Regions from separate parts of the Homo sapiens genome. Here region 2 is linked to region 1. Evidence: fine-mapped expression QTL. A gene starts in region 1. The other region holds a variant in brackets. All regions are shown on one strand. Distances are from middle to middle.

Region 1 (4,395 bases):
GTTTTTAAAAAGCTAACCACTGTTATACATATCTGGCATATATATGGGGACTGCCGAAGCCAGACAGTTGGCAAAAATATGTAAGCCATTTTTGCTCCAAAGTTAGCTAGGATCTGTGGGGAAGTAAACAATAGCTTGCAAGCCCCTGAATGTAGTGCCACTCAAAAATTAAAGAGGAATCGCACTATGCACATTTAATTTAGCAAGTCAAATTACTGCATATGCTGGCCAAAAAATAAAATAAAATAGCAACTTAAATACCAGCAGGATAAGGGCAGTGGCTCACACCTGTAATCCCAGCACTTTTGAGAGGCTGAGACTGCAGAATCACTTGAGCCAGGAGTTCGAGACCAGCCTGGGCAACAAAGTGAGACCCCGTCTCTACAAAAAGTACAAAAACTTAGCCAGGCATGGTAGTGTGTGCCTGCAGTCCCAGCTACTCAGGAGACTGAGCTGGGAGGATCACTTGAGCCCCAGGAAGTCAAGGCTGCAGCAGTGAGCTGTGATTACGCCACTGCATTCCAGCCTCAGCGACTGAGCAAGAGCACGTCTCAAAAAAATCATCATCATCATCATCATCATACCAGCAATTCTGCCTGCCACTTTCCACTTTGTAAGCACATGCTCCAAAATGAGCCTAAGATAGGGGTTTGTCTTCCTCCTTTTAAGCCTCCTCAGGGCAAGCATCTCACAGCGCATCACAACTCTATGGCTTTCAAATATGCTTATTTGCACAACACAGCCCCTAAAGGTAATCTAATTACTTATCTGGGTTACAACCAAAGCAACAGTAACAAGTTTCAAAACTGAAGGAAAAACCGTCCAGGATGTAGTCAGAAACAGGATGCTAATCTCAAGCGTTGCACCTTCCTAGGAATTTTTAAGGGTTAATTTTTATTACATACAATGTTTGCCTCACGGGCTGACTTAAAAACTTGACTCCCACATGAGCTACACAGAAAACTGTGCAAGAAGGAAAGGTTTTCACAAACACACTCACACCTATGAATTACTGAAGTCCCTGCTCTGTGTTGACCTGCAGTGCAGTATGTTCAGATCGCTCCCGTTCATCTACGGTGTAAACTTCTCCAAAACATAGCTTCTTATTTACACAGGAAAGCTCTGAAGGGCAACTAATGATAAAGCCACAGGAAAGTTTTCTCTGCAAGCAATCAAGGCCTTGCTCGGGAAAAGAAACGTTGAGTCTGATTTTGTTCGTTTAAGCCCAAGTGTACAAGGAAACAATAAACATCACTTCCTTATTCTAGAGGACTGAACAAAGGCTTTGCCGTGCATAGATATGATAGAAAAGGAAGTGGCACGTTTGAAGAAATAAATAGCAGCAGCGTTTAAGAGGATCCTCTGACCCTCCCTTACCTCCAAACAGTGTCTCAAGGCACTGCCCTGGATTGAACCGCAGTTCAAACTTCTTAAAACCACCCGAATGGCCCAGGTCTGTGAGTTGGCTCCTCCATTCATAAAGCCATAGAACACCAAGAAAAAGTTATGGGGCCGCAAGAACTAAGGAAGAGGCGGCGATTTAGAAGGGGGAGGCCCGCAAGATTCCAAATTCAGGTCCTCCTCCCCACTACTCCGTCTCCCATCATCATTCTCTTCTCGTTTATCATCATCCTTCCACTTCAAATCACACTCAGTCCTCCTCCTTCTGACACGCCATTCTTCTTCTGTTTTTGTTTGGTAAAGCAAAGTTAAAATTACGGGCCTTAGGACTAAGATAACTAAGTTCGAAGCCAGGCCAGGCCACGTAGTAGTCGTGTGTCCTTGCATAAGCCACTTAATCTATTTCGTGCCTCGGTTTTCCTATCTTGTAAAATGGGTTTGATAACAGTACGCACCTCGGAGGATTGGAGTAGAAGTTAAAATGAAGCATATGAGATGCTTTGTAAAGTCCCCGCACATATTACTCGAATATTATCGTGTGACGGTGGCCATTATTATTACTACTCTTTGCTGGGGTTCCTCTCCTCCTCACACACCCTGCCCCTTACACACGCCCCCACTCCCCTTCCCCCTACAGACCCCCAATGGTCTCTCACACTCTTTCATCTTACGCTCCTCTTTCCGGTAAGCGCAGGCCCGCTTACCGGGACCGACAGGGCCCGCGAAGCGCTGGCTGGCGGGCTGACGAGCTGGCGGGCTGGCGGGCTGACTCCCCGACGGCGGCGACGGCAGCCCCTGGCCCGGAGCTCTTTTCCCTCTACCCCGGATCTGCTCCTAGAACCGAACGAGCCAGTGAGGTGAGCGCCCCCGTGCCCAGAGCGGTCTTACGTGCCTCCCACCAAACAACCGGACGGCACCACTCTACCCACCCGATCCGCCCGACTCGCCTGCTCTCTAGAGTCACTCCAGACGCGCGCGCGCGCCTGGTCACGCCCGCTCCTCCCCCTTTGCGCGCCCCTGCGACTCCGTGCGTGTTCGCTCTGCCTGTGAGGTCGCGGGAAGCAGCGCGCAGGAGCAGAAGTAACAGGGTGCCGCCGAATAGGTGGGGAGTGGAGGCCTGGAAGCACGCTTGCGGAAGACGGCCCGCCTGCGGCCCTCTTCGCGTGATTAGTTGCGCTCGCTCAATTTAATCATGATTCTTACTCCTCCATTTTGGTCCTCTTTCCGAGCGAACAAGGAAGGGGCGTGGTCTAGAACTAGCGCCCCCCCCCACCCCCCCGCCGTGGGCGCGGCCTGGAAAAATCCAAAGGCCGAGGAAAGGGCGTGGCCCTTCGAACAAACCCCTCGAATTACCACGCCCCCTCCTCCTGGCTTTGAAGGACCGTTAAAATCGTTGGCACGAAGGGATTTGTGAAGAGGCTGACGGAGAAAGAGGCTGTCGCGACTTTCTGTTCTAACATGGCCCCGTAGATGTCTCACAAAGCATCTATCCTACGGTTCCTTTCTGGCAAACAATTAGTTGGGGGTGGGGCGGCTCCCCAAAGCCGAATGTGGGTGACGTCCGCCAAGGCCCGCCTACCTCCCGGCCTCACCGAGCAGAGCGAGGAACATTGCCATAGCAACTGGCCCGCCAGGGTCTGCTCGAGTTACAAAGAGGACGGCGCCTCCCGTGGGCACGGCGCCTGGCCAGCGCAGGCGTCGCCGGGCTCTTCAGAGCTCCAAAATCTTTGCGGACGCGCAGGGAGCTCGCCAGATTTTAGTGTCGAGACCCACGGGCTCAGGCCTCGCCCAGGAGCTTCTGAGGCCCCTCTGCCAGCCCCTTGGTTCCCTCTTAATCCTGCTTGAAGAGAGGGCTCTTGACCGACGCCGGCCCTGGGCAGCGTGTGGCCAGCTGGGGCGCGCCTCCGCCTCGTGTTCTCCGCGGTGGGAGAGCAGACAAAGCGCCCGCTTCCTGCACACAGTGTCGGCGGCGGGCCGCCCTCAGCCACTCCCGCCAGCGCTCCACCCCTGTTCCCGAGAGGACGTGGGGGCTGCCCCAAGCACGGTTCTAGTTCTTGTCCCAGATGCTTGTACTTGAGAGGCTGTTGATAAGAAAACGGCAAATGTACCCCTAGTGACGAGGAGAGGGGCTTCTACTATTCACTTTGCACTTTTAAACATTTCCCCCTAAGGGGATTCTCCAAAATCCTCCAATTCCTAGGCTGGATGCCGAGCTGGCCTTGAGCGGCAATTTCAAACGGGATTCCCAAAAGCTGTTCTCCAGGGAGGTGAACTAGCTCCAGCCTCCAGGATAAGAGCATCAAATGCACTTTCTGAACTCCAGTCCTCCTCTTCTCCCCCCCAAATGAGTGTCTAGCTCCTTATCTGCAAAATTAGGTTACGAATGGCTGTCGTGAGCTTGTGAAGATTAAATAGTTAATAATTGGAAAAACACCCCGCACCGAGGAAGATATAAAAGAGCGTTCAATAAATGGCATGTCTCAGTTTGCTCTCCCTAAAACAGTCGATTTGGGGCCGGGATTGGTGGCTCACTGAGCCTGTAATCCCAGCACTTGGGGAGGCCAAGGCAGGCGGATCACCTGAGGTCAGGAGTTCAACACCAGCCTGGCCAACATGGCAAAACCCTGTCTCTACTAAATAATACAAAAATTAGCTGGGCGTGGTGGAGGGCACCTGTAATCCCAGCTACTCCGGAGGCTGAGGCAGGGAGAATTGCTTGAATCCAGGAGGCGGAGGTTACAGTGAGCCTAGATCGTGCCACTGCACTCCAGCCTGGGCGACACAGCAAGACTCCCTCTCAAAAAATAAAAAAATAAACAGTGATTCCGTTGAGGGATACACTGATAAAGAAGGCAGGCAAGTGCCCCATCCCCCAGTCAGTTCTATGGGTTTCTTTTTTTTTTTTTTTTTTTTTTTTTTTTGAGACTGAGTCTCGCTCTGTCACCCAGCCTGGAGTGCAGTGGCGCGATCTCGGCTCACTGCAAGCTCCGCCTC
Region 2 (4,395 bases), 87 kb before region 1:
AGACTCAAACAAATCTATTCTAGTGTATCATTTTTACCCCAAGTTCACTATCTCCTATCCTAATATCAAGATTAGTGCCATCAAAATACCTAACAAAATCAATACCTTTGCCATCCACATTTAGGTTCCAATGTCTTAACTGAAAAGCACAAAATTAGGATACATGATGTATGAAGGCCTATTTTGCTAAAATAAGCCGAGTGGTGACAGCTGAGGCTACAGAGTCGAGCAGACCTTGGTCTAAATCCTAACTCTAATTTACTAGGTGAATGGCCTTGGGGAAGTCATATAATTTTCTGGGTCTCAGTTTTCCCATCAGTAAATAGACTAATAATAATTACCTCATAGCCTTCTTAAGAAGCTCAAATGCAAGTAAAATACTTAACCTGACACTTAAAAGGGCTCAATAAATTTTAGATATTATTACTTGTAGAATGAGGAAAATAATACTTACTTAATACTGTTGATGGATTAATAATTTAGTGCATCCTACAATGTCTAGCCCATGATAAACACTGATGGCTAGTGTTATTTTTAAATTAGGCCCTTTGGCCAAGTATGGTGGCTCACGCCTGCAATACCAGCACTTTGGGAGGCCACGATAGGAGGACTGTTTGAGGCCAGGAGTTCAAGACCAGCCTGGGCAACATAGCAAGGCCTTGCCTCTGTTTTGTTTATTTTATTTTGAGACAGAGTTTCACTCTTGTCACCCAGGCTGGAATGCAATGGTGCGATCTCAGCTCACTGCAACCTCCGCCTCCTGGATTCAAACGATTCTCCTGCCTCAGCCTCCCAAGTAGCTGGGATTACAGGGACGCACCACCGCACCCCACACCTGGCTAATTTTTGTATTTTTAGTAGAGACGGGGTTTCACCATGTTGGCCAGGCTGGTCTTGAACTCCTGACCTCAGGTGATCCACCCATCTCAGCCTCCCAAAGTGCTAGGATTACAGGTGTGAGCCACCACACCCGTGTTTCTTTTTTTAAGGGCATAAAAAATAAAACAAAGTTAGGCCCTTTGAACAGTTAATCTCTCCTGTCCCCAGCCCCCAAATAAGTCCTGTGAACTGTAAGCTTTAAATACACAATTTCAAAGTTTTTTCTCAAGTTTATAATCATAAACGTTTATGGTTCTATGTAGTTGTAATTAGCGAGTAGGGTACACTATGTTTGTCACCTCTTTGGACCTTGGTTTCTTTGTCTGTGAAAAGAGGAATTAGACTACATCATCTATAAGGCCTCTCCTAACCTTAATTCTATCTCTAATCTCATCACCAACAGCATGACAGAAACATGAACCCCTTTGCTACAAACCAATCTGAAAGATTTCTTGAGTCAGGCCCATACCTGCTGTACCCGCCTAGCACAGTACCTTGCGCTCTTCAAATCTTCAATACATATTTGGTGAATTAAATATGTTGCTTCATAAATTAAACATACTATGAATTAATAATGTCAAAGCTTTCTGAATTCTTATAATACTTTCAGGACTCAAATAATTCATGAACTGAATTATCAAGCAAAGACCAAACTACTATAATCAAATTAAATTAAAGTATTATTCCAAATGGGGTTCTTAATTTAGAAGCACAGAATATCAAATCAAAAGTTCCTATGTGCCCTCTCCTGGCCAATTGCTGGAATAACACTCAATTAAAACAAAATGAAGCAACCTTAAAACAGAAAATACAGACAAATTCTAATTCTAATTATCAGTCCTCATCTGAGAGTGACCTAAGTATCTCTGGTCACTCACTCTTCCTTGAGACACTTTCTTTAATTGGGTTCCAGGACACTTGGGGTTTTCTTCTCCCCTCTCTGGCCACTCCCCCACAGTCTCCTTTGTTGTTTCCTTGTCTCCCTCCCTGGTCTGTAATATTGGCTGCCTTAGGCAGGAATCAATCCTCGGACTCTTTCTATCTACACTCACTCCCTTGGTGAAGTCAACCAGCTTTGCAGCTTTAAACATTATCCATGCATTGATGACTCCCAAATGTACATCCGTTCCCTGAACTCTATAAACTCATATACCCAATTGCCTACTCGTATCTCTACTTGGATGCTTACAACAGCTCAGATTTAACAAACCCAAAAGTGACCTACTAATATTCTCCCCAAACCTGCTCCTCTGGAAGTCTTCCTAGCTCAGTAAGTGGTTAACTCTACCCTTCCAGTTGCTCAGGTCATAAACTTTGGTGTCACCCTTCTTTCTCACACCTCCCATCCAATGCATCAACAAGATCTGTCAGGTGTGGTTAACATACTGCCAGAATCCAACCATTCACTTACCTTCACGGCCACCCTAATCCAAGCCACCATGATCTCATACCTGAAATAGCCAAC[G/A]GTCTCTGCTTCCATCCTTGCTCCCCATCCCCACCCCAGTCTATTCTCAACACAGCAGCCAGAAAGAACCACTCATAAACATAAGTCAGATCATATAACTCCATGCTCAAAACCTTACAACAGTTTCCCATCTTGCTCAGAATAAAAGCCAAAGTATTTACAAAAAATAATAAGGCTCTATATGATTTATGACTGCCCCTTCCTCTCTGACCTCATCTCCTATCACTATCCCTCTCCTTTTTGTCATTGTTCCTGACACCAGATATGGTTCCTTGGAGCTGTTGCACTTACTATTCTATCTGCACAGAATGCTGTTTGTTCAGATGTTAGCACAGCATGCTTCCTCATTTCCTTCAAATCTTTACTCAAAGATTATCTTTTAGTGAGGCCTTCCCTATCTAAAACTACAAGTTCCTCTCTCAAACACACATACTTCTTATTCTCAATCTCTGCTTTATTTTCTCATAAGCAGATGTCACTATCTAATATACTCTATATTTTACTTATTTTGCTTATTTGCCCCCCTTACTATATTGTACACCCCACAATGGCAAGGGATTATTGTCTGTTCCTGTTCCCTGCAAAATCCTCAGTGCTAGAATAGTTCCCAGCTCAGAGCAGGCACTAAATACATATTTGTAGAATCAATGAAAGAATACAGAGACAGGTAAGGTAAGAGGACTGAGTGTAAATAACTATGCCAAAATTTTACACATGGTTGGAAACTGAGGAAAGCTTAAGAGGATATGCCCCCATCTAAAGGGTGGTACAGACAGGCTTGGTGGCTCACGTCTGTAATCCCAGAGACTCGGGAGCCTGAGGTGGGAAGATCACTTGAGCCCAAGAGTGCGAGACCAGCCTGTACAACATAGTGAGACTCTGTCTCCTAAAAAAAAATATTTTTTTGGCTGGGCGTGGTGGCTCATGCCTGTAATCCCAGCACTTTGGGAGGCCAAAGCGGGCGGATCGTTTGAGCCTAGGAGTTTGAGACCAGCTTGGCCAACATGGTGAAACCCCATCTCTACTAAAAATACAAAACTTAGCCAGGTATGGCGGCCTGCACCTGTAGTCCCAGAAAATATTTTGTTTAGATCCTCACTTTGACATTTAACTGTGTAACCTTCAGTAAGTCACAAAACTTCTCAAATGTATGCATCAGTAAAATAGGAGACTTGGAATTCAAAAACTGAAAACTGTCAGTCAGCTAACAAATATAGCCTACAGAGTAATCCCAGCACTTTGGGAGACTGAGGTGGGAGATTACTTAAGCCCAGGAGTTTCAGACCAGCCGGGCAATATAACAGGACTTTGTCTCTACTAAAACTCAAAAAAAAGTCAGGTGTAGTAGTGCACGCCTGTGATCCCAGCTGCTTGGGAGGCTGAGTTGGGAAGATGGCTTGAATCGAGGCTGCAGTGAGCTATGATCATGATACCGCACTCCAGCCTGGGTGACACAGCAAAACGCTGTCTTTAAAAAAAAAAAAATTTTAATATCTATATATATATGTGTGTGTATATACATGTATGTATGTGTATATATGTATATATATGTGTATATATGTATATATGTGCATATATGTGTGTATATATATATATATCCTGCAGAAATGTTTTATTTGGTCAGCAGCAGTTTTCTTAACCTAATTCAATGTTTTTAGATGAGGAATACACTCTACTGACCACCACAGGCCCTCCCACTCTCATTTTACATAGACAACTTCCCTTAGTTTATTTATTTCTAGTCTGGGGCCTATATGCAATTAAGTTTCCTGGCGGCTCATGCCTGTAATCCCTCCAGGCCAAGGCAGGAGGATCACTTGAGCCCAGGAGTTAGAGACCAGCCTGAGCAACACAGCAAGACCCTAAAAATTAGCCAGGTGTGATGGCATGCACCTGTAGTTCTAGCTACTTAGGAAGCTGAGGTGGGAGCCCGGGAGTTTGAGGCTGCAGTGAGCTATGATCACAGCACTGCACTTCAGCCTAGGCACAGAGCGAGACCGTGTCTCCAAAAAAAAAAGGAAAAAAAAGTTTCTCATCACTGAATCAGATTA

Alleles and levels. Alleles are on the strand shown, and positions count from the first base shown. SD is a standard deviation of normalised expression in the study named.
With allele A in place of G in region 2, the expression in fibroblasts of the gene that starts at base 2,247 in region 1 is lower (moderate effect, 0.54 SD a copy in GTEx).

Evidence for each region.
Region 2: its variant is fine-mapped to the expression of CNOT8 in fibroblasts (GTEx, PIP 0.94).

What each region holds. Positions count from the first base shown.
Region 1 is chr5:154,856,479-154,860,873 of GRCh38, reverse strand. It overlaps CNOT8 (CCR4-NOT transcription complex subunit 8), which reads right to left and starts at 2,247. Exons shown (of 7, transcript NM_001301073.2): 1 at 2,106-2,247. RefSeq lists enhancers at 939-1,441, 1,945-2,447, 2,403-2,572, 2,448-2,951, 2,952-3,453 and silencers at 1,983-2,042, 2,103-2,202.
Region 2 is chr5:154,943,113-154,947,507 of GRCh38, reverse strand. All of the region lies in intron 2 of MRPL22 (mitochondrial ribosomal protein L22), which reads right to left. Among named protein-coding and RNA genes, the nearest start is that of MRPL22, 4.2 kb to the right of the region's middle. The variant G/A (reference allele first, on the strand shown) is at 2,345.